Regions from separate parts of the Homo sapiens genome. Here region 1 is linked to region 2. Evidence: fine-mapped expression QTL. Tissue or cell type: lung. Region 2 holds a variant in brackets; the other region holds the start of a gene. All regions are shown on one strand. Distances are between the middles of the regions. Region 1 holds the start of LINC00941 (long intergenic non-protein coding RNA 941). Region 2 has its middle 22 kb from the start of LINC00941.

Region 1 (2,904 bases), 22 kb after region 2:
TCGAAGCCCCGGACTGGCCATGAGGCTGGCAGGAACCTAGAAGAGGGGAAACGCGTGCCCGACTTGGTATCGTCCTGGAGGGTCCAGAGAGAAGAGGATGCAGGCAGCATACGTTTTAAGGGATGAGTCGTCGGAACTGGATGCTAATCAGATATAATCAGCTGACGACATTCCTTCTGTGGAGTAAGCCACTTGGGAAGACAGTCTTGGGTGCGGAGGGGACCCAGCGGGACGAGACCAGGTGCCTGCTGGTCTCCCAGGTTCGCGCAGGAAGGCTGGGAATTTCCTTGCCTCCTCCCCACCGCACCATCCTCCACCCCCGGCCCGGAGCTGTCTCTACCTGGAGAGAAAAAACGGAAAGGCCGAGAAATCAGAGCCAGAGGGCAGAGTGAAAGGGGTGGGGATGGGAGAGGATACAAAGGGGTTAGGACGAAGAAAACGGACTTCCTAGAGTCCCGACTTGAGGGCTTGACTTCAAGAAGAGAAGAGAAGTCTGAAACGGGGGCGAGAGCAAAGGCAGGGGGTTGGGGTGGTCGGGGGGGGGCGGCGATTATAATCGACTTTTATGGCTTGACGGCCAGGGCAGAAATTAAATTTGGGGGCCGGCTAAGGCTAGAGAGTAAGGTGACGGCTCGCCCCGCGGGTTTGGAGCTGTGCGCTGGGGGCCAAGGGAGCAGCGGGAGGAGCGCATGCCTGGGGCGCACGGGCCGGGAGGGGCGGGAGGAGAGCCCAGTCCCCAGCTCAGATTACTCTCCTAGGCATGGTCCCCACCAGAGCCGGGGCTGGAAGCTGGAAATCCGAGTAGAGCTGACTCGGACTTAGCTGCCCAAGGGAAAGCCTCCGGGCGGTCCTCGCTGCGCCCCTAGTCCGGGGCCCCGACCCCTCCCGGACACTGCTTGGGCCATGCGGGCGCCGCGTTGCCGGCCACTCGTCGTCCCGGGGTCCCAACTGGGGCCGCTCCTGCTGTTCTAGAGCTTGCTGGCCCCGGCGCGCCTCTCTTGCAGCTCCTGTACTACTCGAGGGGACCACGTCGTCCCGGAGGCGCGGCCATCGAGAGGATGCTGCGGCCGCGGGGCGGCGGGGGCGGGCGTTTCAGGGCTACTCACCCGAGCTGGGAAGGCAGGAAGTCTGTGCTGGCTGGGGGTTGGTCTCAGAGGGACTCTGGGGCTTGGACACAAAAATCGCGGCGCACTGGGGAGGACACCCGGAGCGGTGGGAACTGCGGTGTGGACCCGGGAGAAAAGGGGGTTGGAGGTGGGGGGAGATCGCGCGGCACGCGTTGCATAACCTGACCTGCCCTCCTGGGCTGGAGGCAGGAGTGACACCTCCGCCTGAGCCGCAGTTCAGAGAAGGCTACCGCGGCGCTGGGTCCTGCGGGACAGCCAGCAGGGCTGGGGTGGAATGGGGGCAGGGGAAGGAGCCCTGAGAGGAGCCAGGATGGGTCTGGACCTGGCTCCAAGTCGCGTGCCCTACACACCCCCTCTGCGCTGCCCAGCGGGGCACGGCCCGACCTCGGAAGGCCCATCCGGCTCTCAGAAGTGGCCGCTCTACCAGCTGCCCATAATGCTGCCGAGGAGCCTGTGCCAGTCCCACGGCTGCCGTGCAGCAAGCGGGCGGCCCGACTGACTTCAGCCACGTCCCCTGCGTCAGACAAGTGGGCGTCCCCTGCGTCGAGACAAGTGGGGGATCCGCGAGGCCTGCAGGGGCGCAGGGACCAGAGTGCTAAGACGTGGCATGACCTTTCAGGGAGAACTGCGCAGAGGGTGGCCAAGGGTCACCTCCCTCGAGGGGCGAAGCCCTGAGATGTGAGGATGATTCTTAAGACAGCGCCCTTCCCGCCCCTTCCAACCCCCCAGACCACCACCCGGGTCTGGGAACAGGGTGAGCGCATGGCGAGAGGTTGTCTGGTTTTGTAGCTATCAAGTTGTACCCCCGCTGTGCCCATAGGAAGTGACTCATCTGCTTGTCAGGTAGTGGCCTTGCTGTGAGCCAGGACCATATTAAGAAAAGAAAGAAAAAAAGGAGCAGCAAAACACTGTGCCCCTGCACAATGTGCTCTCCTTTCTTCTGCCCTCCCTCTCCTAGGCTGTCCTCTTCTTCCTCCACTTGTAGTTTGCTCAGCCCCCTCCCATCCACTGCCACCCCCGCCCAGTTGAATAATGCTCGTATCTGAGTCAGCGGATGTGAAACAAAGGGTTATTTCTCCTTATCTAATTTTGTGGAAGATTGACTAAAAGAGGGTGGAGAGTGTGTCTATTTAGCAGGAAAAAGATGTTTTTAACGTGAATAATATTGAGAAATGTGCTGTGACTTTCACTGTTGGGCAAAGCAGGGAGACGCCTGCCTAGCTGGCCCTTCCTGCAGGCTTGGTAAAAAGTCCTCTCCGGTGGAGGGTTGGTGGCCATTTGTCAGGTACCTAAAGAATACAAGGCGCTATGCTAGGAACTAGAACTGTACAGAAATATCCCGAAGGCTCTAATGTCATGGGACCTAACTCATTTCGGAGGAAGTAAGGCTTGAAGGTAGAGAACTATCTTGCAAGGCCGCCTGTGGCAAGCTCTTTGCACAATCAGTGAATGTACAGAAATCCAGGGTAAACAAAAATTACTTCCAACTGGGATATACTTCATAGAAAAGGCATCTGGGGTGGGGCGCAGTGGATAACGCCTGTAATCCCAGCACTTTGAGGGGCTGAGGTGGGTGGATCACCTAACTTCAGGAGTTCCAGACCAGCCTGGCCAGCCTGGCCAACACGATGAAACCCTGTCTCTGCTAAAAAAAATACAAAAAATTAGCTGGGCGTGGTGGTGGGTACCTGTAATCCCAACTACTTGGGAGGCTGAGGCAGGAGAATCGCTTGAACCCAGGAGGCGGAGGTTGCAGTCAGCCAAGATGGCGCCACTG
Region 2 (2,904 bases):
CACTTGTATCAGCAAGCTAGAAATTAAAATAGACCATCATCCATTCCTCAATGACGATGAGTTGTGCTTTCATGGACTGATTCATGAAAAAGTGGAGAAAGTGTCAGTAACTCCCAGATTAACTGTTTCTAGAGTCTAGAAACAAGAGTCTTTGTGGTTCTCCAAGTTCAGCCCATCTAGATTTTCTTGGTTCCTTTTCATTGCCATAAAGGTCTTCTAGAAATTGACTTTAGGTAACATCCTTTTTCTAGTTTCCCAAGGTTTCTACCACTGCGCTGCTAAGATTCTAGTTATGATGGTGATGGGGGCCCTTTTGAACTGACAACTGGTTCTTGCTGTATATTTGGCCCCTAGATGGAAATTTGGAGTTTTGACAGACCCAACACACACACACTCTCTCTCTCTTTCTCTCTCTCTCTCTCTCTCTCTATCTTTCTCTCTCTCAAAAGTTTTCTGCTGCCTTCTCTTTTGAATTTTTCATTCCCAGGTCTCACTGGACAGTGGCATGGGCTATGGGGTGGGCTCCTGCCCACAACTCCCAGGGTCCTGCCAGTTATGATCCCCTCACCTTTCCCACTCATACCCACAGGCTCCCTTCTTGTCTAATGTCAACACTGGCCAGAGTAGCCTTCCTCCCTGCACCCTACAAGGAAGATGTCAGCTGTGACAAGGACACCTTGCCCAGTGCTGCTGTGAGGGAAGGAGGTATAGATGGGAGTTCCCCATCTAGGGCAGTGGATCTTTCCTAGCCTGACCTGCTGGTCATTTAGTCTAAGACTGATGTACGATGCCTATCATCAGGATAGATTAGTTCAATGAATAGTGACATCAATGAACCACATCCATGATGTGCTTGGTGATGTCTACTCTCCACCTAAAATGGAATTTTCCCTATGACCTTGTGAAACATAATTGCCAAATCTCCTGTAGCCCTCCTGAAAACCCCTGCATGGCAGGAGAAAACAGCCAGTGGCTGAGGAACCAAAGGACTTGAAGAAGCACAACTTAAGGTCTTTGATTTGATCAACTTAATTTTTATTTGTCCTCTGAGCAGCCCTGCCTCTTTTATTTCTACATCTTGATCTTTTAGTAATTCTTCATGTGCATGGCCACAAGAAGCAAAAAAAAAA[AC/C]AAAAACAAAAACAAAAAACTCCAGCTGTTTGTTTTCTGCCTGTTCCTAGAAGATTTTCATGGTTTTGAGATAAAAAGAGGAGGCTTTTTTCTAGGTTTTGACTTGGATTAGTGAAAATTTCCCTGCTATTCAGAAGCTGTTAGTTATAGCCCCCAGTGGGCTTCCCGCTGACTGGGGAATCAGGTCAAAGAACAAGAGGATGTCTCTTATCCTCCCGTTTCCCTGGTTCCAAATTCCAGGTACTTGTCTGGAGTGAAGCTGCCTATCACTCCCTGACAGCCGTTCTCCATCCAGAATGTCTCCTGACCCTCCAGCTGAAGACAGCAGAGCCAGCACAGGAGAAGCAGACCTTTCCATGCCCAAGTTCAAATCTTTCTGAGAAATAAGAACACTCTGAAAATGAGGAGTTTGGAATCATCAAAAGGGTGATGGTTGCTTTATAGAGGCTGAACGATGCACACTCAGCACTCCTAAAGGCAAAAATATAGAATAAGAATTTAGGTTAGGGATAGACTAGAACCCTGGTAATTGGGGTTTTCAGCACCATCAAGCCATTATCATAAATGTTCCAAAGGAGGATGATGGTATCTCCATGCCTACAGGCCTAGAATAATTGAAATGCCATTCTCTAGGAGTTAGAATCAGTTTAGCAAAGAGACCAAGAAAAGGGTTGTCTGGCTCCCAGAAGCCCTCTTTAAACCCCAGGACAATCAAAAACTTGCTGATAGAGTCTGGGCCAATTCTGCTTTTTAAAGAAGACCTGGTTCTGGGGTAAAGGTCAGCAGAGAGAGGACTGTGGGGAGAATAGGGGCAAGAAAAGGGCATATTTTGGCTCCTTCTGTGTCTTCTCATTGTTGTAGAAAAAAACAGGTTCTCATCGCACAACCAGGAAAGATTAGGCATGCAGACACTTTGAAGGGTGAGTGGTTACAGAATTTATTGGGCAAAAAGAAAAAAGATTCTCAGCAAAGCTAAAGGGGTTCCTGTTAAAAGGCCCCCATCTCACAGATTGAATTCCAGGTCACCACCCAGGAACAGGAGAGGCCAGGCTCCTCCCCCCTACAAACAGCACGAACTTCCTGAGGCCCTGCCCCATCCTCCCAGTGCACAGGCCAGTCGGAGGTTCTCCAGGGACCACTTTTTACTTGGCTGTCTCACCATTTTGTGGAAAGACATGTTTAGTTCACCCATCCACAGTGACCAGTGGGGTGGAGTGGCTGATATATCAAGGGTCTATATAGGAAGATTTTCAATCTGGTGGTGTTTTCGCAGTCACATTGACCTTCCTGGCAGGTGTGAGGGTCTCTACCACCCAGTTCCCCACTCTGCTGATGTCCTTCCACTCATGCTATCCAGCTGCCACATGACACAGGTCCTGTCTGAAGGCAGGCGGGGAAGCCCAAACCTGACTCACAGGGCAGCTCGCAGTTGCCAGAGTCTAGGTTCTCCAGCAGCCACATTTTGAAGAAAGACATGTCCTACAATTGTCACGGATGGGCACCCTTCCCCCTCCCTACACAGATCTCCCTCTTCCTGCTCCCCTCCCAGCTCCCAGCTCTCCCTTCTCCTTGTAGCCTGGTGAGAGGGACAAGTCAGAGAGAGTTCTACATACAGATATTTGCACAGTTTTTTTGTGAGGCCACTTTTGGTTTTAACTTTATTTCTATCTCAAAGCAATGAAAAATTGCTTTATTGCATCAGATACCAATATAACAGTTAAATGCGTTTCTGCTAGATCTCCGTATTGGTTTTTTGTTTTTTGAGACAAGGTC

What was found. PIP is the estimated chance that this variant, and not a neighbour inherited with it, causes the effect.
Region 1: LINC00941 starts here. The variant in region 2 is fine-mapped to the expression of LINC00941 in lung (TOPMed, PIP 0.98).

The regions. Positions count from the first base shown.
Region 1 is chr12:30,794,419-30,797,322 of GRCh38, reverse strand. LINC00941 (long intergenic non-protein coding RNA 941) reads right to left here and starts at 1,642. Exons shown (of 5, transcript NR_040245.1): 1 at 1,107-1,642. RefSeq lists enhancers at 851-1,352, 1,353-1,852, 2,355-2,854, 2,855-2,904.
Region 2 is chr12:30,816,575-30,819,478 of GRCh38, reverse strand. No RefSeq gene overlaps it. Among named protein-coding and RNA genes, the nearest start is that of LINC00941, 22 kb to the right of the region's middle. The variant AC/C (reference allele first, on the strand shown) is at 1,131.